Linked DNA regions of Homo sapiens. The protein of the gene in region 3 binds, or shares a complex with, the protein of the main gene of each other region. Each region holds a gene or a part of one and is shown on either strand. Other genes may lie near its edges. The genes, in order: SMARCC1, PBRM1, SMARCD2 and SMARCC2.

Region 1 (7,578 bases), on a different chromosome or scaffold from region 3:
TGAATACAGATGCAAAAATCTTCAACAAAAGACTAGCAAACCAAATCTGATAGCATGTTAAATGGATTATTTACAAAGGCCATGTCGGATTTATCAAAATAAAAACCAAAAAACAAAAAGGGAGGGTGGTTCAACATGTGAGAATCAATTACAGAATAAACTAAAACTTTGGACTGTGGTTGATGATGATGTGTTAAAGTAGGTTTATCAACTATAACAAATGTACCACCCTGGTATTGATCGTGGGGAAAACTGTGCATGTAGGGGTAGTCAGGCAGTATACAGAAACTCTGTAATGTCTACTGAATTTTGCTATGAACCTAAAACTGCTCTAAGACATAAAGTCTACTAAGAAAAAAAAAAGGGGGGGGGGGCAAGAATCTGAGTAGGTATTTCCCAAGGCAGACATAAAAATGGCCAATAAACACATGATATTCAAGATGATTAGTCATCAATGCAAATACAAACCCCAACATCAAACCACTAGATTGGCTATTACAGGTAAAAATGGAAAATAAGTATTGACAAGGACATGAAAAACTTAGAAATGTTATACATTACGGGTAAGAACATAAAATGGTATAGCCACTATGAAAAACAGGCTGGCAGTTTCTCAAAAAGGTAAACAAAATTACCATATAACTCAGCAATTCTACCCCTAGGTATACACCCAACCAAAAGAAGTGAAAATCCTTAGTTCACAAAAAAGCTTGTATATAAGTACTCATAGCAGCATTTTTCATAGTAGTATAAAAGTGGAAACAATAGGCCAGGTGCGGTGGCTCATGCTTATAATCCCAGCACTTTGGGAGGCCGAGGCGGGCAGATCACGAGGTCAGGAGATCGAGACCATCCTGGCCAACATGGTGAAACCCTGTCTCTACTAAAAATACAAAAAATTAGCTGGGCGTGGTGGCAGGCGCCTGTAGTCCCAGCTACTCGGGAGGCTGAAGCAGGAAAATGGCGTGAACCAGGGAGGCAGAGCTTGCAGTGAGCTGAGATCGCGCCACTGCACTCCAGCCTGGGCGACAGAGCAAGACTCTGTCTAAAAAAAAAAAAAAAAAAAAAAAAAGTGGAAACAATAAAAATGTCCATGAACTGACAAATAAATATAATTGGGTATATCCACACAAAGAAATAATCAGCACTGACAAGAATGAGATACTGATGCATGCTACAGCATGGAAGAACCTTGAAAACATTATGCTAAGTCAAAGAAGCAGACACAAAGGCCACATATTATATGATTCTGTTTATATTAAATGTCCAGAATAGGCAAACCCATAGAGACAGAAAGCAGATTGTTAGTGGGTACCACAGCTGAAGAGCAAAAGGAATGGGGAGTGACCACTTAATAAGTATGTGACTTCCTATTGGGATGAGGAAAATGTTCTGGAATTAGATAGTGGTGATAGACACACAGCATTGTAAATATAGCAGAAGCTACTAGGTTATATACTTTTAAGCAGTTAAAATGAGGAATTTTATGTTACAGGAATTTTTCCTCAGCTAAAAAAACCCCCAAAACAATGAATTTAAACCCACTCAGCAACATATAAATTAACATAATCATAAGTCCTTTCAATATTCTTTTTTTCACCTACAGTTCCATGCATCTTTCAGTATTCTTGTATCTGTCTATTCAAAACCTGGATCTACAAACAGCAACCAGATAATTCACAACTGTAATACCATTAACAGTTACAAGATAATTTTTTAGTTCTAGCTACCAAAAGAAACAGACAAGAGAAAAAAAATCATGTACTAATCTTAAAAGACAAGTTTATACTGATCATTGTACTCACTTTTTAGTGCAAGTAAACCCAATTATTTGAGTAAACTGACAGGAATACAAACATATATTAACCCTGTCCCTTAAAAGCAGCAGTGACTCACCAAGCTTCTCTGGCTCATCGGGCCCTGTGCCTGCAATGCAGCTGCTCTCCAGACCGTAGGTGGGATCCACTTTCCCAGAGGCTCGTGCTGCTTCTTGTACTTTCTTGACATGAGCTTCAACCAATTCCAGTGGTACCTCCTCCCGGACCCGAGAAAACTCCTCTGGTTCAAGAATAAAAATGGAACAGCAATCTAACTTTGCACAAAAATTTGCTTCAGTGTAAAACCACCACCAGGAAACCCAACACAGTATTATTGTCTTAGGTGTAGCAACCTCTTCAGGCTCTCAGTCCCTCTATACCAGAAAAATGAGAGGACTAAATGAGACAAAAAATAGTAATAATAATGAAATTCTATGGTTCTACATTTTCTCCTACACATCACAGAGCCTTGAAATAAGAGATCTTTCAACTTATGCCAGTAATAATCAAAACTGCTGTCCATATTTTAACTGCTTACTAGATTAATAAGTCAAAAAAACAAAAACAGCAAGGATTAAACATCCATAAAACCAAGAAAGAGTTCTATGATGTGACAAAGTTCTAGTTACAATTAATGTGTAACCCATGAATATTAAATGACTTCCTTTGCTAGTTACACCAAATTCTAAATTAATCACAAAATACACAATAAAAAACCTCTGTCCCTCCAATTCCTAAAGCTCTTAATTTTAAGGTGCATTACTTAAAAATTTTGTAATACTTTTTTTTTTTTTTTGAGACGGAGTCTTGCTCTATTGCCCAGGGGATGGAGTGCAGTGGCACGATCTCGGCTCACTGCAACCTCTGCCTCCTGGGTTCAAGCGATTCTCCTGCCTCAGCCTCCCAAGTAGCTGGGACTATAGGCATGTGCCACCACACCCAGCTAATTTGGTGTCCAGCCAAATATTGTAATACTTTTATAAAGAATATGGTATCTTTCACAGGTAATATCTGATTTTTGTTATTTACATTAAAAGAAATGAATGTAACGGCTGGTAATATTTAAATTGGGATAAACTGAGTTTTTCTGTTGAGGAGATGGTTTAGGGAAGTCCATACCCAAAGCCGCTTTTGCTGCAGCAGATGCCACGCGAGGGTCCACCACAGATGCCAAAAAAGCAACAGTACTCATAACTGGATTTCCTGACTGACTGAAGGGGACAGGCTGGTAGGCCAAAGGCCCAAGGGAAGCATCTGAATTCTCAAGGTATGGGTCCTCAATGGGAAGTCTCAAAAAGTGGAGGATGCATTCATCCTGAGTACGACTTCCAACATGTTCCGACACTTTGTTCCAATCATCCTTGTACATCTCCAGGGCCTAAGACAGAAAAAACAGATGCTTTCATGTCAGGTAACAAGAAAGTAATGTGTAATATTAGAAGTTCTTTAGATAGCTTTTTTAAAAAAAATTAATGCAAATATTTATGCATAAATAGAAAGATTTGATGGTTTCCTTAGATTATTTTCAATCAGGCAAGTAAAATAAATAAAAGACATGCATACTGTAAAGAAAGTAGTCCAGGCACGGTGGCTCACGCGTATAATCTCAGCACTTTGGGAGGCAGAGGTGGGCAGATCACCTGAGGTCAGGAGTTCGAGAGCAGCCTGGCCAATAACATGGTGAAACCCCATCTCTACTAAAAATACAAAAATTAGCTGGGCATGGTGGTGCGTGCCTGTAATCCCAGCTACTCAGGAGACTGAGGCACCAGAATCGCTTGAACCTGGGAGGCAGAAGTTGCAGTGAGCCGAGATTGTGCCACTGCATTCCAGCCTAGGCGGCAAGAGTGATAGAAAGAAAGAAAAGAAGAAACAAAAGAAAAGAGGGAGGGAGGGAGGGAGGGAAGGAAGGGAGGGAGGGAGGGAGGAAGGAAAGGAGGGAAGGGAGGGTAGGGGAGAGGAGGGGAGAGGGGAGGGGAGGGGTGGGGAGGGGAGGGGAGGAAGGAAGGAAGGAAGGAAGGAAGGAAGGAAGGAAGGAAGGAAGGAAGGAAGGGCTTTTTTACTAATACATACAGACATGACTGTTTATGTAGAAAATTCTAAGGAAGCTATAAAAAAAAGTACTAAAACTGAATAGCTGAGCAAAGTCACAGGATAGAAGGGCAATAGAGAAACTGAACTATATTTCCATACATAATAGCAATGAACAATTTTAAATAGGAAGAAAAAAGTATTTAAAATAACATAAAAGCTGGGTGTAGTGGCACACATCTGTACTCCCAGCTACTCAGGGGGCTGAGGCGAGAGGATCTCTTGAGCCCAGGGGTTCAAGGCCAGCCTGACAAACACAGCAAGACCCTGTCTTAGGTCGCGATTTTCTCCTGCTGCTGTGGCCCAGACATGGCGACTCCGGCCCTGTGATTCCAGAGGTCCCCTTTGAACCATCGAAGCCCCCAGTCATTGAGGGGCTTAGCCCCACTGTTTACAGGAATCCAGAGAGTTTCAAGGAAAAGTTCCTTCACAAGACCCACGAGAACCCGGTGGTACCCATAGGTTGCCTGGCCACGGCGGCCGCCCTCACCTACAGCCTCTATTCCTTCCACCGGGGCAACAGCCAGCGCTCTCAGCTCATGATGTGCACCTGGATCGCCGCCCAGGGTTTCACGGTCACAGCCATCTTGCTGGGTCTAGCTGTCACCGCTATGAAGTCTCAACCCTGAGCCCAGGGTCTGGCTTTGAAAGCTCCGCAGAAATGATTCCAAAACCCAGGAGCAAGCACTGGCCCTACCATGGGACTTACTCCCTCCTCTCCTTTGAGAGGCCCATGCGTCGTTGGGGGAGGAAGTGACCCTTTGCGTAACTGTAACTGAAAGTTTTTTCAAAAATCCTAGTTTCTGTTGTTTGAATGTTACATACTTCTATTTGTGCCACATCTCCCCTCCACTCCCCTGCTTAATAAACTCTAAAAAAAAAAAAAAAAAGACCCTGTCTTAAATAGCATAATGAGATACTTAGGAGGAATAAACATAATAAAGAATGTATAAGAGCAACAGACTAGAATGAGTAAAACATGAGAGAACTCAAAGACCCAAATAAAGGAAGAGATATATTGTGTTCATTCATTAGAAGTCTCAGTATTAAGATGTCAGTTCTTTCCAAGTTGAACTACAGATTCAATACAATTCCAGTCAAACTCCAAGTAGGCTTCTTTTTAGTAGAAATTGATAAACTGATTCTAAAATTTATAAACTACATACATTTCTAGTTTTATAATTTATTATTTTTTCAGAGAAAATCCTGAAAGAAACCAACAAAAAGAGTAAAAGGAGTCTCCGAGGGAAAAACGGATAGAACAGTAGAAAGAAAACCACAACTATGTGGTGCTAAGAATGTTGAGGAATTAATTGGATAAAAAGAATTTATTTAGTGGCATACTGAAGTTGCTACTCTCACACCATTCTCTCCAGGACCATGGTTCTCAATGAAGGGTAATTTTTGCCCCCTTGAGGACACTGGCAATGTCTGCAGACATTTTTGGTTGACCCAACTGGAGAAGTGCTGCTGGTATCTAACAGCAAGGAGGGGCCATGTATGCTGTAAAACATATATGAACCCTCCACCCCAACAACAAAAAAATCTGGCCCAAATGTCAATATTGAATGCTCCAACTGAAAAACCTTGCATTAGAGCCTAATTTGCTGCTCTACACTGTGAGATTGAGCTTTCTATAACAATAGTTGTCTCCATGTTTACTTTTTCAGTTAATTATTTTACTTCAAAGATTTTTTTTTCTTAATTTTTAGAGACATGTTCTCACTGTATTGCCCAGGATGGTCACGGACTTCTGAACTCAAGGAATCCTCCCGCCTCAGCCTCCCAAAGTGCTGAGATTACAGGTGTGAAACACTGCACCTGGACATCAATTAATTCTTAACTCTGGGTTCCAACTGCTGCTCAGGCTTTCATTTCTGCTGGAATGGTAGAGGACTTCTCAAAACCCAAGCCAGCAAATGGCCTGACACATTAAATCCCTTGAAAAACTAGGCTAATTCTGGGTTTCCTCTGGATATTCAGTAACCTCAGGTAGTTCGAGAAGGAATTACTTTTTGAAAGATCCAGATTGTAAGAAAAAAGAAAAATAAATCTCACTCGGGTCCACGGAAGTAGAAATATATCTACTGGGGCTGTATTATGTTTCTAATTATAAATAGGGATTTTCTAGACATGCTCTATCATGCCCTTTTCCAATGAAATTTTTAATTAAAAAATATTTTTTCATGTTCCTTTCGCCAGGGAACAATAAGAAAGTTCATCAAGTTTTTTTCCAGAATAAAGGTGGAGTTGGGGAAACTTCTGAGATACAAAATCCAAGCAAGACTCAGCATCCAGAAGAGCACAGAGTTGAGAATCTGTAAATGTCTGAGCCTAGGAACTGATAATAATGCTAATAAGAGAGGCAAATTAAAGTGATGTTTTGAAAAGAGAATAATGCGGTGACACACTGGCCAGGAAGGAGGATGATTCAATGAAAGTTTTTAGTAAGTATCTTATAATGCTACAAAACAGCTTCATTCATCCTGCCATAACCCAGGTTCAGGTCTTCATCATTACTTAACCTGGATACACTCACTCACTCTCTTTTTTTTTTTTTTGTGAGACACGGTCTTGCTATGTTGCCCAAGCTGCTGTCCAATTCCTGGCCTCAAGCAATCCTTCCATCTCAGCCTCATAGATCGATTATTATAATTACCTTTCTATAGTAATTTCATCCTTCTCCACGCTGCTAGGGTGAAATATGTTTTACATAAAACACTCTTTCTCTCCTGCCTAAAACTATTTTATTATGTGTCATTATCTTATGAAATTAAGCCAAACATGATCAGGACACTGCCTACTTCTCCCGCCCTATTCCCTACTCTTCACGTTTCAACAATACACAGGCCCCACTGATCTATTCCTACTAGGTATTGTGCCTATGAACCATTTGTTCTGCACTGGAAACATCATGTTTTAGGACCAACACAGCTATACCATTCCCAGAAGCCTGTTCATTATGTCTTATCTACCTGGCTTGTTTGCAAAGCAACTCCTCTGTACAGCTCTTGTGCTCTGGACATACCTCTAATCATAAAGCTGGGAATTCCGCATTCAAGCTTTGTGTTTTATCTTTCTCTGTCACTTAAGCAGACTATGAATTCCTTAAAGGTACAGATTGTGTTCTACAGATCTCTACCTGCAGTGTCTGTCAGTGTCCAAAACACAATACCTAATAAAGTTTACTGAACTCAAACCACAGGAAACTGAACTAAACCAAGAAATAAATCTGACTTTGCTATGGCTCTCAAATGTAAAAAGGCAGACTGTTTTCCTAATTAAAAAAAAAAAAAAAAAAGGTTCTCTTAGCTAAACCAAGCTTGTCCAACCTGTGGCCTGCAGCCTACATGTGGCCCAGGATGGCGCTGAATGTGGCCCATACAAATTCATAAACTTTCTTAAAACACTATGATTTTTTGGGGGGATTTTTTTTTAAGCTCATCAGCTATTGTTAGTGTTAGTGTATTTTATGTGTGGCCCAATGTGGCCCAGGGAAGCCAAAGATTGGACATCTCTGTCCTTAAGAAAAGTTTTTTAATAGAAGATTTACTATGCATCTTAGTGTAGTTCAAAAGTACATAGAATGATATATTTCCTGGGTTTTGCATCAAGAAAAAGTATGTAAAGTGTATGCACACTGTGAGGAAATCTTTCATGTTGGTTACTG
Region 2 (7,578 bases), on a different chromosome or scaffold from region 3:
TGCAGCCTCTACCTCCTGGGCTCATGGGATACCCCCATCTCAGCCATCCAAGTGGTTGGGTCTACAGGCATGTGCTACCATGCCTGGCTAATTTTTGTACTTTTTGTAGAGATGGGGTTTCACCATGATTCCCAGGCTAGTCTCAAAATCCTGGACTCAAGCGATCCACCTGCCCTGGCCTCCCAAAGTTCTAGGATTACAGGTATGAGCCAACACGCCTGCCATCTTGCTTCTTTATTGTCAATATTTTTACTGCTTTTGTTTATCTAACTACATTGGCTAATTTCAAAAAATATTAAGTAACACTAGAACAGTAAGCCCCTTTGTCCAGTGTGTAAATTTAAAAAGGAATTTGTTTTATAGGCTTCAGGCTTGAGACACAAATATGAATTTAAAAAAAAATTACACTAGAAGAAATACCTATTGAAAGTCTTAAAAAAAATCAAGATGGGTTCTCTACCAAATAATCTTTCCTTTGATCTAATGGAATAATGAATGAAATTTAAAGATCTCCCTAACTTTGAACAATTCTTGCTTTCTTAGAATGAATTCCCACTTCTTGGTCATGTTGTTCTCAAAGAAGTAATTTGATTTCACTTACTTTTTCCCCCAAGTAATTTTTGCATCAATATACATGAATAAGACTGAGTTGCAGTTTTTTGTTTTTATTTTTCAGGTTGTGAAATCAAGATTATCTTGGCTTTGCAAAACAAACTGGAAATTTCTTGTTCTCCCTGCTCTGAAACAGCTTCAACAGTATAATAATCATAGGTCCCTTAAAGAAAAAGTCACCTATGGAACTGTCTGACCTCAGTACTCTTTGGGGTCAGTTCTATGATACTTTAAAAAATTTCTTCATGTTGTTGTACATTCTGTATTATATCTCTTCTTGATTCCATTTTGGTAATTTGTAATATCCTAGACAATTAGCCATTTTATTTAGGTTTTCAAATTTATTAGCAGAAATATACAGTCTTTACATTTCTTCCACATTTATTTATTTATTTATTTTTTGAGACAGAGTTTCGCTCTTGTTGCCCAGGCTGGACTGCAATAGCACGATCTCGGCTCACTGCAACCTCTGCCTCCTGGGTTCAAGCGATTCTCCTGCCTCAGCCTCCCGTTGGGATTACAGGCACCCACCACCTCACCCAGCTAATTTTTTGTATTTTTAGTAGAGACAGGGTTTCACCACGTTGGCCAGGCTGGTCTCGAACTCCTGACCTCAGGTAATCCACCCATCTTGGCCTCCCAAAGTGCTGGGATTACAGGTGTGAGCCACCGCGCCTGGCCTTCTTCCACATTTTGTGTCGAAGTTTAACCCCTTTCTTTTCCCATTATTAGATAGTTGGCAGTTTATCTAATTGGACTTGTCAAATAATTAGCTCTTAGATTTACTTTAAAAAAATTTTTTGTTTTTTTGAGACAGAGACTCACTCTGTTGCCCAGGCTGGAGTAGAGTGGCGTGGTCTCAGCTCACTGCAGCCTCCGCCTCCCAGGTTCACGCCATTCTCCTGCCTCAGCCTCCTGGGTAGCTGGAATTACAGGCACGCGCCACCACACCCAGCTAATTTTTGTATTTTTAGTAGAGATGAGGTTTCACCATGTTGGTCAGGCTGGTCTCGAACTCCTGATCTCGTGATCTGCCCGCCTTGGCCTCCCAAAATGCTGGGATTACAGGCGTGAACCAATGCACTTGGCCTGATTTACTTTTAAATTATAATGTACAGTTTTGAAAGTGTAAATTTCTTTCTGTTATAGTTTCCTTCTTCCTGTTTGGCTAAGGTTTTGTGTTGTTGCTCTTTTTCTAAGTTTGAATACTTTATTCATTTATTTTCTGGAATAGGTGTTTTGAGATGTAAAATTTTTTCTGTGTGGCTATTATCTGCATACCTTTTCCAAGTTAAAATTGTCTTCAGCTCGACTGTCCTCTGAGTTGTCTGTATTCTTCTCATCATCACCTTTATCTGCATTTGCAAATACAGAGGCCACGCGAACCACAGGCAGAGGCACATCCCGAGGGACAAACCTGACTGAGCTGATGGGCATGGTCCACAGTTTAATTTTCTTAAAAGATTTGGTTTTGGCAGAATACCGTGATTCACAGACAAAAACATCCTCATCTCGGAAGTTTTCTGGGCATAACTTAAAGTATTCCTGGGGGGTGGGGAGGGCATAAGAATAAAACTAGTTAGGTGAATTTTCTGAAAATCAATCAAAAAAAAAAAAAAAAAAAGCAAATAACCAACCAACCAAACAAAAGCTGAACTGATTACAGACTTTCTGGCAGTTAACAAAAAATAATAAATGACCAGAGATTTAGAAGTATTTCTTTGGCTACGGAATGGACTTATTATATACACACCCTTTAAATTATAAAAACAAATAATTCCATTTAGCTTACAATTGCTCTTTGAAAACATATGAACATTTCATATAGCTATAATGTTCCTTAAAGCTTTGAAGAGGGCTTGTGTGTGTGTATCAGACAGACACACAAAAGCACACATTATTACCTAAAAAACAAACTGAAAATTTGTAATGATTATCCTTAAAAAAACATCATACTTAAAAATTAGCCTGGCAATATTAAAAACTTAACCTAACTGCATTATAGCCAAATAGTGTAAGCAGCAAGTGGTCTTTCACAACGAAGTTCAGGTTAATTTCTTCCCAAATCTTTTCATATAGCTATATAGACACGGCTTAAAAAATAGCTTAAAACAGAGTTCCTAATTTTGTAAACATCGATTATTTTCTGTGTTTTAAAATTTTATTCCTAGGGAATGAGTGAGACTTTGGGATTTAATGAGTTTCTTACCTTGACAAACATGACCACACACTTGCCTAGAATTTTACTAACTGGAACTTTGTTGTAATAGTCACTCTTAAAAACTTCTTTTTCTAGAAATTTTCGTGTAGCCAGGTGGAATGTTTCATTTGGTCGGTAAAACCAACAGCCATACAACCATTTTTCACCTCAAAAATGGGGGGTGGGGGAAGGGGAAGAGAAAGAGAATCATTGTTAACAGAAATCACTTTTTTTTTTTTTTTTTTTTAAAGAGACTGGGTCTCACTACGTTGCCCAGGCTGGACTTGAATTCCTGGGCCAAAGTGGTCCTCCAACCTCAGCCTCCTGAGTAGCTGGGACTACAAGTATAAGTCACTGTGTCCAGCTCAGAAATCACACATTCTTTGCAAAATTAGGAAATACACCATCAATCCACTCTGCCATGACATGAACCTAGCACTGTGCTTATTTTTACAGCTACAGTTTAATATAATTATCCACAGGAGAAATAATACTCAAAAATAATAAAGTGTAATGAGGCCTAAAAAATGCATGCTACTTTTCCCCCCTCATATATATATATATACACCCTCAACCTCTTGGGCTCAAGTGATCCTCCTGCCTCAGCCTCTCAAGTTGCTGGGACCACAGCAAGTGCAATCACACCCTGCTGATTTTCTTATTTTTTCTAGAGAAGGGGTCTTGCCATGTTGCCCAGGCTCTTCTTCATATTAAAAGCCATATAAAGTACATAATGAGGAGGACAGGTGATGAGACCTGCTCCACTCTGCTCTGGTTAGTACATACCTAGAGTTGTGCACTTTAGTAAGGGGACAGATATGCTACTGAAGGACATATTTAGCTCTCTGGTGAAGGAATACAAAAGTATTTCATGTGATAGGCAGCTCAAAGAACTGGATTGCCTGGATCACATTTCCACCAACTTCTGGCTTCATTAATTTCTATGCATACTCCATGTCTCAATTTAAAGGCAACTGTTCTAGAAAGCCTTTTTGAAAACAAATGCTAAGCCAAGGCATGTCATTCTATAATAATTTCTTTTTTGATCATAATCTTCCTTACTGGAGTAGTTTTGCAAGGGAAAATATGAGCTTTTTGTTCTTCTGAATCTATGTCACTCTACATAAAGTTTGGCTCAAAGTATGTTTTTAATAAGTATCAAATGAATGAATGAATCTCAACCAGACTTTAAGAAGCTGTATTTCTTTCTTTTTTTTTTTTTTTTTTTTTGAGACAGTCTCACTCTGTCACCCAGGCTGGAGTGCAGTGGCGTGATCTCGGCTCCCTTGCAAGCTCCGCCTCCTGGGTTCACGCCATTCTCCTGCCTCAGCCTCCCGAGTAGCTGGGACTACAGGCGCCCGCCACCAGGCCCAGCTCATTTTTTGTATCTTTTTAGTAGAGACAGGGTTTCACTGTGTTAGCCAGGATGGTCTCGATTTCCTGACCTTGTGATCTGCCCGCCTCAGCCTCCCAAAGTGCTGGGATTACAGGCGTGAGCCACCGCGCCCGACCTAGAAGCTGTATTTCTTTTGACTCAACTGTGACACTTGCCCAATAGGTCCTATGTTTTTCATATGATGGGTGCTTACTTACATTTATTGACATATTGAACAATTATTATGGAAAGGCTTAAGATGTCTGAGTTAAAATTTTCTTCCCTGAGGAGCAAGGAGAAGTCAAACAGTCATATCTCACTAAACTGTCCTTTGATTTAAAACAAACTTACCAGCTGAATCCTCCCACAGTCTTTCAATACAGACGATATGTGGTTGTAGGTTGGCCTCTGCAGGTTCCACATAGACGTAATCTCCAACATGGTACATGCTGTTTTTAAAGCTACAGTCCTGGCTGTATGTGCGATGTAAGCCTGAGAGGCCTGCAGCACCAGAGGAATCTTCACTCTTTTCAGCTTCTTAGGTAAAAAAATAAATAAATAAAGGAAAAAGGTACTCACCAAAGGGATGCTGAAGTCAGATGTAGGGTTCAAACAACACATACTAATAATACATTTAATACATTTAATTCCATTTGCAACATGCGAAGGCAGGAATCAGCAATAGTATGATCTTCACATTCCTAATAGCCTCTACTCAAAACTATCTTTGAATTACAACCATCATTAATTTAAATGAATATATAACTACACAAAGGATGTAGAGAATAAAAACATCACCTTACTAATATATGATCATATGGACATTTTGGATAATATCGAAAGGCACAAAGAAGTACGTATGTCGTTTCGAATCAAGTAATTCTAGAGATAATCTCTGATATACTTCATCCCCACCTTAATGCTTCTTAATGTGTTTCATTTCACTAAGTTATTACACGAATATGACACATTTAATGGAGTCTTAGAATTGAAGAAATATAGAATACATATATTCTACAATATACTATAAACTATATCTAGTATATATACTTAATATATCAAGAACACTAGCCCTGAGAGGAAATGCTTTTCAAAATGACTTTTATTTTTATTTATTTATTTTTTTCGAGACGGAGTTTCGCTCTTGTTGCCCAGGCTGGAGTGCAATGGCACAATCTCAGCTCACCACAACCTCTGCCTCCCAGGTTCAAGCAATTCTCCTGCCTCAGCCTCCCGAGTAGCTGGGATTACAGGCATGCACCACCACGCCTGGCTAATTTTGTATTTTTAGTAGAGATGGGGTTTCTCCATCTTGGTCAGGCTGGTCTCGATCTCTCGACCTGAGATCCGCCTGCCTCAGCCTCCCAAAATGCTGGGATTATAGGCGTGAGCCACCGCGCCCAGATGACTTTTATTTTTGTTAAGTAAAACTTATTAATAGTTCCAGTACAGGCCGGTAGCGGCAGCTCACGCCTGTAATCCCAGCACTTTGGGAGGCCGAGGCGGGCGGATCACTTGAGGTCAAGAAGAGTTCAAGGCCAGCCTGGCCAACATGGTGAAACCCCATCTCTACTAAAAATATTAAAAAATTAGCCAGCATGATGGCAGGTGCCTGTAGTCCCAGCTACTTGGGAGGTTGAGACAGAAGAATCGCTTAAACCTGGGAGGTGAATGTTGTAGTGAGCCAAGATCAGGCCACTGCACTCCAGCCTGGGTGACAGAGCAATACTCCATTTCAAAAGAAAAAAAAAAAAGTTCCAGTACAAGCTATCGTTTGCAAATATCACAGGGTTTTTATTGAGGATAAAGCTTTGCCCAAATCTTTGATTACTTCCTTAGGTTAATTTCCCATAAATGGAAGAGCTAATAATAAGCATTTTAAATGTTATTTATTTTATTCCTCCTGAAACATTAAATTTTCTTTTTCTTTTTTTAGACAGTCTCACTCTGTCACCCAGAGTCTTGAACTCCTGACCTCAAGTGATCTGCCCGCCTTAGCCTCCTAAAGTGCTGGGATTACAAGCGTGAGCCACCGTGCCTGGCTATCTAAATTTTAAAATAGTTTTTCTAGTTCTGTGAAGAATGTCATTGGTAATTTCATACGATTAGGACTGAATCTGTAAATTGCTTTGGGCAGTATGGCCATTTTAATAACATTGATTCTTCCTATCCATGAGCATGGAATGTTTTCCCATTTGCATCTGTCATCTCTGATTTCTTTGGGCAGTGAGTAATTCTCATTGTAGGGATCTTTCACCTCCCTGGTTAGCTGTATTTCCAGGTATTTTATTCTTTTTGTGGCAATTGTGAATGACAATGCGTTCCTGATCTAGCTCTTGGCTTGGCTGCTATTGGTGTATAAGAATGATAGTGATTTTTGTATACTGATTGTGTATCCTGACACTTTGCTGAAGTTTATCAGCTGAAGGAGCTTTTGGGCTGAGACTATGGGTTTATTAGATATAGAATTAAGTCATCTGCAAAGAGACGTAGTTTGACTTCCCTCTTCCTATTTGAATACCCTTTATTTCTCTCTCTTACCTGACTGCCCTGGCCAGGACTTCCAGTACTATGTTGAATAGGAGTGGTGGGAGACAGCATTCTTGTCTTGTGTCAGTTTTCAAAGGGAATGTTTCCAGCTTTTGGTTATTTCAGCATGACGTTGGGTGGCTTTGTAATAGATGGCTCTTATTATTTAGAAGTATGTTTCTTTAATACCTAGTTTATCTAGAGTTTTTAATATGTCAAAAAGCCTTTTCTACATCTATTGAGATAATGTAGTTTTTGTCTTTGTTTTTTTTTTTTTTTTTTTTTTTTTGAGACGGAGTCTTGCTCTTGTCTCCCAGGCTGGAGTGCAGTGGCATGATCTCGGCTCACTGCAACCCCCGCCTCCCAAGTTCAAGCAATTCTCCAGCTTCAGCCTCCTGAGTAGCTGAGATTACAGATGCCCACCACCATGCCCGGCTAATTTTTGTATTTTCAGTAGAGATGGGGTTTCACCATCTTGGCCAGGCTGGTCTTGAACTTCTCACCTCGTGATCCACCCGCCCCGGCCTCCCAAGCTGTTGGGATTACAGGCGTCAGCCACTGCGCCCGGCCTTTTTTTTTTTTTTTTTTTTTGACATAGTCTTGCTCTGATGCTCTGATGCCCAGGCTGGAATGCAGTGGCGCCATCTCGGCTCACTGCAACCTCTGCCTCCCAGGTTCAAGCAATTCTCCTGCCTCAGCCTCCCAAGTAGCTGGGATTACAGGTGCCCACGACCATGCCCGGCTAATTTTTGTATTTTTAGTAGAGATGGGGTTTCACCATCTTGGCCAGGCTGGTCTTGAACTCCTGACCTTGTGATCCACCCGCCTCAGCCTCCCAAGGTACTGGGATTACAGGTGTGAG
Region 3 (7,578 bases):
GCCAGCTCTGACCCTCGCCCCAGGGGGAGTCTGTAAACATGCAAACCCAGCAGCCTTTGGTTCGGAAATGTCTTACAATGTCAAAGCACAGCCTCCAGCAGTCCTACTTGGGCCTGCCTGCAGGGGGGCAGAGGAGGCATCTGCTGAACCCAATTAAAGCCAATGCAAAAAGTATAAGGCTTTGGGGACCAAGCAACAAGGAATCCTATCACTACATTTATAAGACTAAAGCTGGAGAGTAGAGGGTGACAGCAGACACTCCTCACCCCAGCCTACGTGTCTGCGGCCCCAGCAAGGACCCAGAGGGTGGTCTCCCTCCAGGCTCCAGGGCTGGGAAGAAAGATCCCTGAGCAGTTAGGTCAGGCGAATTCCCAGCACCTGTTCCAGTTCCTGCCTTCGCTGCTGCACCTGGAGAAGGGAGAAACCAAGTGGCTCAGGCCTTTGCTACTCACGGCCAAAGGAGGGAAAACAGGGCAGAGCCTCACCTTGGCAAAGATGTGCCTGCCTACTGCTTCCTGGGCCCAGGGCTGGTGGTAGAAAGCAGCTCGTCTCTCCTCCTCAGGATTTCCAATCACATCAGTGATGATCTGCAAAGAGCCAGGAGGAAAGCCATAGCATAATCCCCACCCCTGGGCTAATCCACCCTGGGAACTGCTGTGGGTAAAAATCACCCAGAGCTTTACATAGGAGTCCCCTCGGGAAAGAGGACTACACCTTGAGGTCTCGGCGCTGGGAACGGAGCCATTCCTGGATGAAGTCCTGGGGGTCGGTGCTAAAACTGAGCATGAAATCTCTCTGGGTCTTCAGCTGGTTGATGGACTCAATGGTCTCATGGATCTGGAGAGGGTACCTGTGTCAGACTGTGCCCCCAAAGCTTACATGCAAGCAACTGAGCCAGAGTTCCCATCCCGTCCTCCAGGTGCTACATGTATGGAAATGCTGGACAGAGCCAGCCCACCCCAATCCTGGGCCCCAGAGGAAGCTGTGGAGCCAGAGGGCCCACCTTGACATCAAGGGAGGCGATCTCCTGCTGATTGGTGGTAGAGGCCAGAAAATTGCTCATTTGGGCCTTCAGTGGGTCGTCCACCTCCACATCGATGTCGTAACAGGCTGTCTTCTTCTGGTCGTTAGGGTCGACACTGCAGGCAGCACATGGGGAGGGAAGGCACATAGCTGACTTCATCCTGCCCACCTGGGCCAAATCTGGGGCCCATTCTCTGCACACACTCAGGGAAAAAGAAACCTGATGCTTTCTTTGGCTTTAGTTCAAGCCAAGGGTGAATCTGCTCTTAGAAGAGCCTTCCTGTCCCCCTCCTTGCATTTACCTAATGACATGGTTGATGACAATGGGGTCTGGATGCTGCAGCAACCCTGCCAGCTTCATGGGAATCTCGGAGAAACGGAGTCGGCCACAACTGAAGATCTGGAGGAAATACGAAAGGCTCAGCGTTGGCTTGTGGGCACAGTGGAGTGGACCATTCCAGGACCAGTGAGGGCAGCAGTCTGCAGGCTGTGGCCAAGGAGTAGCCCAGCAGGCAAGGCAAAGCAAGGGCTGAGAAAACGGGGGCTGGCATCTGGCTAACCTGGCGGAAGTAACGGTTGCAGTTGATGTACTCCCGCTCGTGCCCATCCTGCAGCTGGTTGTGCTTGATGTAAAGCCACAGGGCCTGCATGATGGCGGCCCTCGTCTGCGTGTGCACTCCCAGCAGCCTTGCCAATCGGGGGTCCAATTTGTACTGGGGAGGCTGGAGTTGGATGGAGGGGAGTCAGAACGGGTTCTTATAGTAGAACAGTGGGAAAATAGGGCAGGGACAGGAAGGGTTTCTAGGAACCAGCTCCCCTCCTGAGGGGTCCCTGTGGGCCCAGAAATGACCCCAGGGTCTCTGTCACCTGATGATCCAGCATGAGCAGGAGGGTGCACTTGACGTTGAGGTCTCCAGGCCGTTTTACTTGGAAGCCATCTGTCTCCTGGGTGGTGGGCATCCGGTGCCACTGGCAGGGAGGGAAGCATGGCTTATCACCAAGGGGGTGGGCGTGAACACAGGGCCTCCCAAGGGCCCTGAGGCCATTTCCCTGCCAAACCTGCACATCAGCCTGCTTTTGCCCCAGGCCCACTCTCACCTCCACCAGGTGATTGTCAGGCCCGTACAGCTCCTTGTCCAGCTCAATGACGAGGCTCTTAAAGAATGAAGAAAACTTCCTCTTCTGTTTGCTAGGCTGGGGATGGAAAGGGGTGTGAGATGGTGCTGCTGAGCTCTCAAATCTCAAGCTATGCTAAATCCCAAGAAAGAGAAGCCCCATTTCAGCCCTGGAGCTCCGGATACTGAAGATTCCTGGGCCCTGAAGGATGGAAGCAGGACTCTGGGCAGACTGGAGGCAGGGAAATGGTGCCCTCTTGCAGCCCACGAGGGACTTCCTCGAGACACTCGACTGCCATCTGCAGGAACACTGTAATAACCACACAAATCAACCTCCAACGGGCTTGGAGCAGCGCCCCCCTCCCTATGGCAGGACTTCTCTGGGAGCGCCCAAGTGTCTGGCCCAGTCTTTTTTTTTCTGAGACACAATCTCACTCTGTCACCCAGGCTGAAGTGCAGTGGTGTGATCATAACTCACTGAAGCTCGACCTCCTGGGCTCAAGCCATCCTCCTGCATCAGCCTTATGAGTAGCTGGGACTACAGGTGCATGCCACCGCACCCAGCTAATTTTTAAATTTTTTGTAGAGATGGGGTCTGGCTCTGCTGCTCAGGCTAGTATCAAACTCCTTGGTCTCAGTCTTAAACCCACACAGGCCTCCTTCCCTCCAGAACCTCCCTCCCCAACTCACATCATCCAGCAGTTTTCCTTCCACTCGGAGTTCCCAGGAAGCCACCTTGTCCCCTGCTGGGGTTCCCCCAGGGGTCCCTGCAGTTCCTGCACTATCGCCTTCCGCCTTGCTGGGACTGAACGTATTGGAAATGTAGATCCGAAGCTTTCGCTTTTGCTAAAGAGAGAAAGGCAATCACAACTGGAGGTGGACCAAGATGCTGGGACACAGTGCTACCGCATCTTCTCATATGAACCATTCAACAATCAGTACTGAGCACCATGAGCCAGCCAGGCACCTTGTCAGGTACTGGGAATCAGAAGTAGTAAGTCCCAGTCCCAGCCTTTTTTTTTTTTAGACATGGTCTCACTCTGTCACCCAGGCTGGAGTGCAGTGGCGCGATCTCAGCTCACTTGCAACCTCTGACTCCCAGGTTCAAGCGATTCTCTTGCCTCAGTCTCCCATGTAGCTGGGACTACAGGTGCGCACCACCATGCCCAGCTAATTTTTTGTGTTTTTGTAAAGATGGTATTTCAACATGTTGGCCATGCTGGTCTCAAACTCCTGACCTCAGGTGATCTGCCCACTTCGGCCTCCTAAAGTGCTGAGATTACAGGTGTGAGCCACCGCACCTGGCCGGAACTCACCATTTTATGGGGAAAGAGATGCATCACCAACAATGCCAGCACAGTGGGACTGGTGCTACGGCATGATGGAGTAACACGCAGCCAGTCTCTGGCTCACATCTTACATGAAACCCAAACACCCATCACGGCTCCAAAATATCCTAGTCCCCTGGAAAGGCTTCACCACTCGGGACTGTTCTACATTATTATTAAGAAAAGCTTCTCGGCTGGGTGCAGTGGCTCACGCCTGTAATCTCAGCACTTTGGGAGGCCGAGGCAGTCAGGAGTTCGAGACCAGCCTGGGTAACATGGCGATACTAAAAATACAAAAATTAGCCGGGCGTGGTGACAGGCATCTGTAATCCTAGTTACTCGGGAGGCTGAGGCAAGAAGAATTACTTGAACCTGGGATGCGAAGGTTGCAGTGAGCCGAGATCGCAACACTGCACTCCAGCTTAGGTGAAAGAGCGAGACTCCATCTCAGAAAAAAAAAAAAAAAAAAAAAAGAAAATTTCTCTATGGATGGGGAAGGGGAAGGAGAAAGGAACTACCTTTATCCCCTAGTCTAGTGGTTTTCAAACTTTTGACCACCACCCATAAGATTTACATTTTCAATTATGACCCAAGGTCTGCATATCTATTTATCAGAAACAAAAATGTCATGAAAGAATCCATTTACTACTATGGTAAGTACTACTGTGAAGTATTTTAAGATTTTCTACTGTCATATATTCATTTAAAACATACTGGCCCCAACACATTCAACTGAGTTCGTACTCTACTAGTGGGCTGCATCCTGCATGTGAAAAACCCGGCTCTAGCCCAACTTGCTTGGCCCCTGGAAAACAAGGGGGTGGAAGGCAAGGAAACCTGGGAAGGCTAGAGGTGGTCAGGGCCACACATACTGTCAGAGGCTTTTTGATGGCCTCCTGGATCTCCATCCGCTTGCGAGCAATGGTCTGGTCCAGCTTCCGCTCAAAAGCCAAGAGATCCATGTACGCCTGAGACTCTGGAACAAGCTCCCGGATCTGAAGGAAGGTAGCAGAAGCTCATCAGCTTGCTTCAGCCAAAGCCTGGCTCTTTCCTCCCTTCCTGCTGCAGCCCAGCTTTGAGAGAGATGGACACCCACCCCAAGGTGGCCACTGGGCAGGCCTCCCAGGTGTCCTCTTAACACTTACTCGCTGAGGTAGAACCTTATCTGCCATCTTCCTCCTCTTTAACCTGGGGAGGACAGAAACCCACTTAAGAGGTCAATGGTCCAAAAAAGGACACTCACTCCCATAACGCCCCTCCAGTCTCCAGGACCCTCTCCCCCAGGAGAGCCTGGAGTCATCCTCAGTCACCAAAGCTCTTAAGATAGAAGGAAACCCTCTGCTACCACCAGAGCTGAGTTAGGCAGAGTGAGAGAAGCAGGATGCTCTTACCCCCGGCGCTGGGCAGGCATGGGAGGCTGCGCCTGGGGCACAAGCAGGCGTTTTCGGAATGGATCCATCATGGTGGGTGGCATGCCAGGTCGAAGCGGAGCTGCTGCACCAAATGGGGAGCCAGCAGGGGGTCCCACCTGCAAGCCAGCCATGGGCATCCGGTTCCCTGGTGACATGCCAGGTCGCTGGGGGAAGTGAGCCAACGGGGGTGCATAGGTCAGGGGCAAGGCCCTCCGGGACCCATAGCCCATGCCCTCCATCCCTCTCGTCAGCCAGGTAGGGCCTGAGCAGCACACCAGAGCCCTGCTGGAGCCCCAGGAACAAAGGGGAGTGGGCGCCTGAGCACAGAGTGTAAACCACACCTGCCCTGCCCCCTGCAACCGCCCTGGCAGCCATGCCAGCGAATGAGGCCTGCCAGAACCTGGGCTGGGAGGAGGGTCCTGCCTGCAGAGGGAAGGGCCTTGGGGAGCTTTTCAGGGCCCATTGCTACCTTCCAGCCCCAGCATGCTGTGCCCTATTCCCTGGGCAAGCTGGTCCCTATTCTCTCAGACAGTCCTGCCAAGCCCTGCCCTCCTTCTCTTTCTCCCATCATGAAGAAGAAGCATGGCTGAGAGGCACAGGGGCAGTGTCACTGCCAGGCAGAGGAGTGTACTATAGTATGAGTAGGCCAATGGCGCAGAGCCCCAATCCCCATCCTCTGTGGCCGAGGGAGAAAGGGGTCTGGTAGGCAGCAGCACCCCAGGTGAGCAGGGCTGCAACAGGATGGCTTGGAACGTGTACCAGCTGGTGGGGGTGGCCTCGGGCAGGGTACAGGGACCCTGTACCCTGTAGTCTGGTATCACATAGCCCCCACCCACAGCCCAGAACTGGACCCTCCTCTTACCTCCCTACTGCCCAACTACTACCCCTATGACAGAAGACCCCAGAAGGGAAGCTATGGCTCCTGGGTGGCCTGTGGGAAAGAGAGCAGCTAGCACCTGGACTCTGCCAGTGGTCCAGGCACCACCTGGCAGCCAGGACTGGCTCTGGCTCCGTGTAGCCCTGGCAATCCCAAGCTGGAGAAGGGGGCTAAGATTATCCTGGGAGGCAAGGATAGAGGCCCAGGCTGAGCAGCAGGAAAGTGGGAGACAGAAATAGCTTCTTTAGATGCCTGCAGAAGGATTTCCCACCTGAGGCCTTGCTCCCTGACATTTCTGTGGAGCCCATCTGGGAGTCACCTCCACCCCCACCCGCCTCCCCATGGCTGCTGCCTGCAAGGCCTGTTTGGCAGCTCTGCCTTGCACACACTGTCCCTGGCAGCTTCACAGGGCTGGCCCCAGGGCCCAGATTATGCAACGAGCACAACCAGCCAACCAAGCCCGGCAGGGTGGAGACTTGTACCAAATCAAAGGACCCTCCCCCACCCCAGCATCATGGAGATGAGATTCTTCCCCAACCTCTTCATCCCGCACTAAACCCATGTTCCCAACACAGAGGGTCAGATTCTTGACCAGATGCGGAGATGGAAAGAAACATGACCCACAGACGTGAGGATGGGGAGAGGAGGAGCAGGGTGGGACGGAAGTGTTTGGGAGAATAAAAAGTTCAAAGTGGGGGGCTCTGGGGCTTTGGGAGTCCTGCCAAAGTCTCTCTGCATCAGGAAGAGATTAATCAGAGCTGTTGAAAGGCAAAAGACAGCCTCTTTCTCTGCCTTAAAGATTGTTCTTTCTCTGGCCTGAGATTATAGAAAAAAACTAAGTGTGGCTACAGCTGTAAGCCCAGGCCCAGACATCCCAGACTAGTTTTTCCTAGTGCCTGAGACAAAGACAGGGAAGAACTGAAGCAGTGGGTCCTGCAGAGGTGAGCGAGGGCCCTGTGGTCCCCAGGAAGCTCCCTGCTGCAGTGTTCACAAAACCTGCAGCACCACCCATCCCTCCTGGGCAGGTGCTCCGGTAACAGGAAGTCCCAAGACAAGGCCTCATAGGCAGGGTCTGGAATAGGCTCCACCCAGACATCTGCTCCAGGTTTCCTGGGCCCAGAGCCCCTGGCTCACTCAGGGCCCCAGGGGAAGGCTGCTTATAGTTCAAGTCCCAGCTGAGCCTTGCCAAGCTCCATAGGGCTTATAGGCGCTAGCAACTCCTCCCACTTCAAAAAACAAAACAAAACAAAACAAACAAAAAAAAACAACTCAGGAGTTAAAGAAAAAAAAAAAAGCAGTCCAGCACTCTGAGCCTCCCTAACTCCCTGCCTGCAGCAGGACCAGGTAGGCCTGGATCAATCCCCTGAACCCCAGATGAGGAATCCAGGGCTCCGGTGAGCGTGCTTTGCCCTGCCCCAAATGTGGCCCTGATGCTCCTGGAACCTGGGCCTGAGGGCCTCAGTTGGGGAACATACCACCCACTCTCCCATGAGTAAAAAGGATTTTGAGGCCGGGTGCAGTGGCTCACGCCTATAATCCCAGCACTTTGGGAGGCCGAGGCGGGTGGATCACAAGGTCAGGAGTTCGAGACCATCCTGGCCAAGATGGTGAAACCTCGTCTCTACTAAAAATACAAAAAAATTAGCCGGGCGTGGTGGTGGGCGCCTGTAATCCCAGCTACTCAGGAGGCTTGAGGCAGAGGATTGTTTGAACCTGGGAGGCGGAGGTTGCAGTGAGCTGAGATCATGTCACTGCACTCCAGCCTGGGCGACAGAGTGAGACTCCGTATCAGAAAAAAAAAAATTTTTTTTTTGAACTTTTTG
Region 4 (7,578 bases), on a different chromosome or scaffold from region 3:
CCCCATCTTTACGAAAAATACAAAAATTTGCCAGGCGTGGTGGTGGGCGCCTGTAATCCTAGCTATTCGGGAGGCTGAGGCAGGAGAATCACTTGAATCTGGGAGGTGGAGGTTGCAGTGAGCCGAGATCGCACCACTGCACTCCAGCCTGGGCGACAGAGCGAGACTCCGTCTCAAAAAAACAAAACAAAAAACATGAAGAGAAGTTCTGTATTCTCTCCCTGAGTTGCAGTGGATCATCTTTTGCGTCCTATGTTAGAACCCCACTTTGGAGACATTGCTCCACCAATACTGGTTTACAGTCTGTATTCTGTAGACTCACCCCAGGTATTCCAGAAGTGTATTTCAGGGGTAGGATTAGGGCTGCCACCAAGAAGAGTTCTGGCTTCTACCTCCTCATCAATCAGCTCTCTCTCTTCTCTATGTTTGCTCCTGAGCATATGTATATGAATTCAGTTGAGGAAAGTATCCTCTGCTTTCAAAAATGTTTAACACTTAACCATTCTTCCACAGAGTGATTTGGTCAGATTCAGTATCAGACCATTAAAAGCTTACAGATACATAGATGGAGATAAAGGCCTGTCAAAGACAAGAATCATTTATGAATGTACATAGAGAAATAAGTTAAATTAATTTTTGGTTGGAGAAGTGGGGAAAGTAGCAAGAAGTTTGAAGCCCTAGAATAATTGTGACTGGAGAGAATTACTATATTTTGCAATCAGGTGGAGACAATTTTTGGAGAAAGTAGGATGTCTGGAACTATTAAATTGAAGGCTTGAATTAGGCAAAATCTGTCTGATAAAATGACTCTCTGTTTTCGCAGTCAACACAAAGAAAGACTCAGAGTCGGCCCCAGTCAAAGGCGGCACCATGACCGACCTGGGTAAGACAGGAGCCTCTTGGGCACGGCAGTCAGAGCCAAGGGAAGGGGAGGGCTCAGCTGCCCCCTTTTCGCTAGCCTGATGGGCTTTTGGTAGGGCTTTCTTGCCCCTCAGGAGGCTCCAGCCTTACATCTTGGTTTTTCTCTTTCAGATGAACAGGAAGATGAAAGCATGGAGACGACGGGCAAGGTGGAGCCAGTTTAGAGAGGCCCTACCTCTCTATGTGATTCTGATTTGTGATTATAAAGTTCATTCTGCCCAAACTTTTCACTGCCCAGACTTTACCCACTGTAGACTAATTCCAGCTTTGTTCAAAACTCTGACCCTTTCAGAGTCCTGGGGCCCATGACTGCTCAGTCCCATCACCCATCTTTAGTGTCCACATTCCTGGGGTGTGGGAGAAGCAGAGGGTTGCTAGGGAGGAAGCAGGAATGCTGAGTGTCCAGCAGCCTCCATACTCGTAGGATGAGGATGAGAACAGTACGGGGAACAAGGGAGAGCAGACCAAGAATCCAGACCTGCATGAGGACAATGTGACTGAACAGACCCACCACATCATCATTCCCAGCTACGCTGCCTGGTTTGACTACAATAGGTATGGTTGTCCCCAACTTCTCACTGAGTCCTTATTTCCCTGCCTCCAGGGGTCAACAGGCTGTTCTTCTCCCTGCCTCCTCCAAATAAGTTATTTTTTCCTCACCCAAATAGACCAGAGTACACTTTAGTTTTAGGGGAGCTCCTTGTGTCCTTTTGAGTCTTACAGCCTGTGGGATGTTCTCCCCAAGCTTCTAACTTCAGCAATTTCGAGCTCTTTTCCTTCTTTGCCTTCTAGGCTTTTCCTCCCTTTGGGGCCCCCATCCCTTCACCAATGCCTTCTTCTGAAACCATTCTGGCTTTTCTTGCAGTGTTCATGCCATTGAGCGGAGGGCTCTCCCCGAGTTCTTCAACGGCAAGAACAAGTCCAAGACTCCAGAGATGTAAGGAAATCTCATCTCATGATTCTCCTTCTCCCTCCTGTCCCCACATTCACCCTTCCTGATCCAGTAACATTCAGTTTAGCAAACATTTCTTGAGCATCTTCCATGAGCCAGGCACTATGCTAGGCTTACAAAGGCACAATATCTGCCTTTAGGCAGCCCTGGCCTAGCATGTAGACACATGTTCTTTAGGATTTGCCCAAGGGTGATATTAAGCATGTTCTATACATAACAAGTACCTACTCCAGTGCCTCAACTTCTTTTTAACAGGGTATAGAGCCTTTAAATCCATATTACTGATATCGTCTATACTGCAGATATTCCTAGCACAAAAGTTTTGATTAAAGTGTAAATTACTATTACCAGGCTGGTTCCTGAGAGTAGGTTTTAATAGAAAAACAAGAGAAGGAACTAATAGAAGACCAGTTTATATAAATTAAGGGATGGAGAGGGCTCACTGGGAAAGAAGTGTAGGAGCCACGGTGGCTCACGACTGTAAATCATCCCAGCTACTTGGGACACTGAGACAGAAGGATTCCTTGAGGCCAGGAGTTCAAGAATAGCATGAGCAACATAGCAAGACTCCCATCTCTAAAGAAGTGAAAAAAAATTAGCTGGGCCTGGTGGGGCATACCTGTGGTCCCAGCTACTTCGGAAGCTGAAATGGGAAGATTGCTTGAGCCCAGGAGTTTGAGGCTGCAGTGAGCCATGATCACACCACTGCTCTCCAGCCTGGCTGACACGGCAAGACCCCGTATCTAAAAAAATTAATGAACAAGGCTGGGTGTGGTGGCTCACGCCTGTAATCCCAGCACTTTGGGAGGCCGAGGCGGGCGGATCACAAGGTCAGGAGATCGCGACCATGCTGGCTAACATGATGAAACCCCATCTCTACTAAAAAGACCAGGCGCGGTGGCTCATGCCTGTAATCCCAGCAATTCGGGAGGCTGAGGCGGGCGGATCACCCGAGGTCAGGAGTTCGAGCTCAGCCTGACCAACATGGAGAAACCCCGTCTCTACTAAAAATACAAAACTAGCTGGGCGTGGTGGCACGTGCCTGTAATCCCAACTACTAGGGAGGCTGAGGCAGGAGAATCGCTTGAACCCGGGAGGCGGAGGTTGCAGTGAGCCGAGATTACGCCATTGCACTCCAGCCTGGGCAACAAGAGTGAAACTCCGTCTCAAAAAAAACAAAAAAACAAAAACAAAAAAAATTAGCCGGGCGTGGTGGCATGCATCTGTAGTCCCAGCTAGTCTGGAGGCTGAGGCAGGAGAATCACTTGAACCTGAGAGGCAGAGGTTGCAGTGAGCCGAGATCACGCCACTGCACTCCAGCCGGGGTGACAGAGCGAGACTCCGTCTCAAAAAAAAAAAAAATTAGCTGGGCGTGGTGGCAGGCGCCTGTAGTTCCAGCTACTTGGGAGGCTGAGGCAGGAGAATGGCATGAACCTGGGAGACAGAGCTTGCAGTGAGCCGAGATTGCGCCACTGCACTCCAGCCTGGGCGACAGAGCAAGACTCCGTCTCAAGAAAAAAAAAAAGATTTTGCCTCAGGCCAAACCTGCTTGGCTTTGGATAAGACATGGCAGTCTTCTTTGGTTAGGAATACTTCAAGATAACCACATTGATGAGGTGGGTGAGACTGAGAACTGAACAAGTTTTCTTCCCAGCTATTCCACAGCTTCCCCTCTCTGGGGGTCCCTCCGTGTTTTTTCTTCATAGCTTGCTATGGTTCTCTCTTCCTTCTCTTCCTGGAGAAAGCAGTATGTGTGAAAAGAAAGTAGTGATCAGGTGAAATGAATTCAACATGACATGCAGGCAGGGTTGGAGTAGGAACTGAACTCTTGGTATAAAATAGTAAATGATGGCTGGGCATGGTGGCTCACGCCTGTAATTCCAGCACTTTGGGAGGCCCAGGCGGGCAGATCACGAGGTCAGGAGTTCGAGACCAGCCAGGCCAACATGGTGAAACCCCGTCTCTACTAAAAATACAAAAATTAGCTGGGTGTGGAGGCACGCACCTGTAATCCCAGCTACTTGGGAGGCTGAGGCAGGAGAATCACTTGAGCCCGGGAGGTGGAGGTTGCAGTGAGCCAAGATCTCATCATTGTACTCCAGCCTGGGCAACAAGAGTGAAACTCCATCTCAGAAAAAAAAAAATAGTAAATGATGATAATTGCCTGCATCTATTGAGAGCTTAGTATCTCCCAGGCACTATACTAAATGTCCAACCTACATTGAGTAATTTAATCTTTACGTCAACCTTAGAGGTAGATATCATCTTCAGTTGACAGATAGGGTATAGAGGAGTCAAGTCACCTGCATAAAGTCACAGAGCTAGTAAATAAAACCAGGATCTGAATCCTTTAATCTGGCCCATGATCTGAAACTTTACACTGTACCACATGATAGCTGCCATTTTTTTGAGCCCCTACAATGCGCCAGGCACTATACTAGTACTTTATAGACCTCTCAACAGACATTCCATTTTACAAATGAGGAAACTGAGGTTTAAAAATTCGAAGTAAATTGCCAAGGTCCTCATGGTAGAACTGGGATTTGAACTTAGATCTTTTCAACTTCAAAACATATGTTTTTTACCGTGGTATGCTGACTAGCTATATGCATGAATAAGGACTTCCTTTTAACATCTGAGTTTGGAAATGAGTATTTTCTTAACTTCTAATTCCTTGTTTAAAAATTGTATAAAATGGCTAGGTGCAGTGGCTCATGCCTGTAATCCCAGCACTTTGGGAGGCTGAGGCAGGAGGCTCACCTGAGGTCAGGAGTTTGAGACCAGCCTGACCAACATGGAGAAACCCTGTCTCTACTAAAAATACAAAATTAGCCGGCCGTGGTGGCACATGCCTGTAATCAGAGCTACTGAGGAGGCTGAGGCAGGAGAATCTCTTGAACCCAGGAGGCGGAAGTTGCCATGAGCCAAGATCATGCCATTGCATTCCAGCCTGGGCAACAAGAGGGAAACTCCATCTCAAAAAAAAAAATTGTATGAAATATCCCTAAGTATAGCCAAGGAGATAATTCATTTAAAGAAAACCCCATCAAGGAAAAGTAAGACATATTTGAAACCCTTTCATCTAGCACATAGCAGGCACTCAGCATGTAGAGTCAAATAATCTACTTTTTTCCATCTTTATCATGCAGGAGAAGTCATTAGCTCTCTTACCATTTTTTCCTTTAGCCCTTTAACAAACATTTATTTTTCTTCTTCTTGTTTCTCTCTCTCTTTCTTCTAAGCTACCTGGCCTATCGAAACTTTATGATTGACACTTACCGACTGAACCCCCAAGAGTATCTTACCTCTACCGCCTGCCGCCGAAACCTAGCGGGTGATGTCTGTGCCATCATGAGGTGGGTCTTGTGGCTGAGGGGAAGGGGGTACATGAGGATGCCTGCCTATGGATGTGTTTTGGCAACAGTAGAGATGCCAGCAAGGAACACAGAGGAGCAGACAGAAAAAAGCACCTCTAGAGAAAGGTGAAGTACAGGTTTGGGGAATGAATGACTTGAGGGATTAGCAATGGCATTCTCTGAAGTGTAGAATATAGGACAAAGAAGGAGCATGTCTGTAATTGAAAGATACTGGTTCAGGCCAGGTGTGGTGGCTCATGCCTATAATCCAAACATTTTGGGAGACCAAGGTGGGAGGATTGCTGGAGCCCAGAAGTTCGAGACCAGCCTGGACAAAATGGCAAAACCCCATCTCTAGAGAAAATGCAAAAAAATTAGCTAGGCATGGTGGCACGTGCCTGTGGTCTTAGTGACTCAGGAGGCTGAGGTGGGAGGATCCCCTGAGCCCTGGAGGTGGAGGCTGCAGTGAGCGGTGATCACACCACTGCACTTCAGTCTCTCTTAGGGAAAAAAAGAAAGAAACTGGTTCAGTTTTACTAGCTATTCAGGAAGAAATGTTCGGTAGGTAGGTAGATATAGAGATTGGCCCAGGCTGAAGATGTAGACTTGGGTGTCACTGGCATTTAGGTGATAAATGAACAACTGGAGTAGGTGAGATTTCTTAAGGAGTACAATGAACAGAGGAAAAGGCCGGGGTTGGGTGGGGAGGGGGTTTATGCCCCTTCTACCCCCCACTTTTCCTCTTCCTCGTGCACCTTTCTGGCTATCCGTGTGACCCTGTCTCTGCCTCTCTCTGCACAGGGTCCATGCCTTCCTAGAACAGTGGGGTCTTATTAACTACCAGGTGGATGCTGAGAGTCGACCAACCCCAATGGGGCCTCCGCCTACCTCTCACTTCCATGTCTTGGCTGACACACCATCAGGGCTGGTGCCTCTGCAGCCCAAGACACCTCAGGTAGGGTGAGGTGCTATGGGGATGGGGCGGGTTGGGAAGATTGGGCTTCTTTGAACTTTTCTTTTTCTGGTTTTTAGGGTAATGGTTCAGGAGTGTTTTGAGGCTTCTTCCTTTTCCATGGGATGCAAAGGGTCACGGGAATCAGCCCCATGTGTTTAGCATCCTCTCTCAGCCTTTGTACCTAAGGCTGTAATTGCTGAGGGAGAAGAGATTATCCTTTTACTCAAGGAGTAGACAGGCTAATGTAGGGGAGTCAATAGAGAAAAATGGCTTAAAATTAACTTGCATGAAATTTTTAAACTTTGTCATCTTTGCCACATTTTTTCATTTTTGCCTCATAATTATCATCTTCATTTTTTTTTCCATTTCCACTTCATCCATTACAAAAATTAGGAAGAAGGTTATGTGGCTTGCCCAAGGTCACAGAGTACCAAATCTAGGATTAGAACCTAATTGTCCAGCTCCTAAGAGAACCTATAAAGATAATGTGAATATGTATGGATATCATGCCAACGACATGTCTTATTAATCATGAAGGGAACATGGAACAGTGGCATGAGTGCCCCCAGAGCTTGTGGGCCGCCCAGCATATGGTCTTGAGGCCTCCAGGGCCTTGGCCTGGTCATTTCCTGCCCAGCCTCCATGACGCCAAGCTCTGTCCCCCAGGGCCGCCAGGTTGATGCTGATACCAAGGCTGGGCGAAAGGGCAAAGAGCTGGATGACCTGGTGCCAGAGACGGCTAAGGGCAAGCCAGAGCTGGTAGGTGGGGTGCAGACCCTGCTGGGCTGCTCATTTTCCCCTTTATTGGGGGGCCCCTGCCCGGGAAGAAGAGACATGAGAGCAGAGGAACTACAGCAGTAAGGGAGGAAGTCCCACCCAGGGGTGTCCCTGGCTTTGGGAAAGAAGCTCCTTCTGTCTGTTTTTTCTCTCTGTCAGCCCCTGGCTCCCGGTGGTCACTTGTACTCACCTGTTTCTTTCCCTCCACAAATAGCAGACCTCTGCTTCCCAACAAATGCTCAACTTTCCTGACAAAGGCAAAGAGAAACCAACAGACATGCAAAACTTTGGGCTGCGCACAGACATGTACACAAAAAAGAATGTTCCCTCCAAGGTAGGAGGTGCGGGCCGACTCTAGGGGTAGAGAATGTTCGCTCCTCAGAGGTCACAGGCTCCTTTCTTCTCACCTGCCTGTGTTTCCCCTGCAGAGCAAGGCTGCAGCCAGTGCCACTCGTGAGTGGACAGAACAGGAAACCCTGCTTCTCCTGGAGGTAATTGGGGCAAAGAAAAGAGAGTTTTTCTCTGAAAACAGAAGTGGGCTCCGTGTAGAGGCTCACGCCTGTAATCCCAGCACTTTGGGAGGCCAAGGCAGGAGGATCACTTGAGTCCAGGAGTTC

The links.
Region 1: SMARCD2 (region 3) and SMARCC1 share a complex: the UniProt entries of both Homo sapiens proteins name them as parts of the BAF complex.
Region 2: SMARCD2 (region 3) and PBRM1 share a complex: the UniProt entries of both Homo sapiens proteins name them as parts of the SWI/SNF-B (PBAF) chromatin remodeling complex.
Region 4: SMARCD2 (region 3) and SMARCC2 share a complex: the UniProt entries of both Homo sapiens proteins name them as parts of the BAF complex.

Annotation. Positions count from the first base shown.
Region 1 is NC_000003.12:47,659,398-47,666,975, forward strand, and holds part of SMARCC1 (SWI/SNF complex subunit SMARCC1), read right to left. Parts: intron 4,538-7,578; coding exon of another isoform or gene 4,216-4,537; intron 3,355-4,215; coding exon of another isoform or gene 3,323-3,354; intron 3,196-3,322; coding exon 2,937-3,195; intron 2,298-2,936; exon of another isoform or gene 2,168-2,297; intron 2,059-2,167; coding exon 1,897-2,058; intron 1-1,896. Other genes in the region: HIGD2AP2 (HIG1 domain family member 2A, mitochondrial-like), read left to right, coding at 3,323-3,354, 4,216-4,537. UniProt on the Homo sapiens protein: Involved in transcriptional activation and repression of select genes by chromatin remodeling (alteration of DNA-nucleosome topology).
Region 2 is NC_000003.12:52,584,532-52,592,109, forward strand, and holds part of PBRM1 (protein polybromo-1), read right to left. Parts: intron 4,725-7,578; coding exon 4,539-4,724; intron 2,980-4,538; coding exon 2,822-2,979; intron 2,158-2,821; coding exon 1,894-2,157; coding exon of another isoform or gene 1,882-1,893; exon of another isoform or gene 650-1,881; intron 1-649. UniProt on the Homo sapiens protein: Involved in transcriptional activation and repression of select genes by chromatin remodeling (alteration of DNA-nucleosome topology). Required for the stability of the SWI/SNF chromatin remodeling complex SWI/SNF-B (PBAF).
Region 3 is NC_000017.11:63,832,584-63,840,161, forward strand, and holds part of SMARCD2 (SWI/SNF-related matrix-associated actin-dependent regulator of chromatin subfamily D member 2), read right to left. Parts: intron 6,146-7,578; exon of another isoform or gene 6,099-6,145; coding exon of another isoform or gene 6,027-6,098; intron 5,043-6,026; coding exon 4,858-5,042; intron 4,655-4,857; coding exon 4,612-4,654; intron 4,462-4,611; coding exon 4,339-4,461; intron 2,985-4,338; coding exon 2,829-2,984; intron 2,218-2,828; coding exon 2,122-2,217; intron 1,993-2,121; coding exon 1,891-1,992; intron 1,746-1,890; coding exon 1,584-1,745; intron 1,424-1,583; coding exon 1,326-1,423; intron 1,140-1,325; coding exon 1,004-1,139; intron 838-1,003; coding exon 715-837; intron 588-714; coding exon 486-587; intron 409-485; coding exon 355-408; 3' UTR 1-354. UniProt on the Homo sapiens protein: Involved in transcriptional activation and repression of select genes by chromatin remodeling (alteration of DNA-nucleosome topology).
Region 4 is NC_000012.12:56,172,302-56,179,879, reverse strand, and holds part of SMARCC2 (SWI/SNF complex subunit SMARCC2), read left to right. Parts: intron 1-823; coding exon 824-883; intron 884-1,032; coding exon 1,033-1,070; intron 1,071-1,345; coding exon 1,346-1,476; intron 1,477-1,786; coding exon 1,787-1,858; intron 1,859-5,115; coding exon 5,116-5,229; intron 5,230-6,030; coding exon 6,031-6,184; intron 6,185-6,850; coding exon 6,851-6,943; intron 6,944-7,175; coding exon 7,176-7,295; intron 7,296-7,389; coding exon 7,390-7,452; intron 7,453-7,578. UniProt on the Homo sapiens protein: Involved in transcriptional activation and repression of select genes by chromatin remodeling (alteration of DNA-nucleosome topology).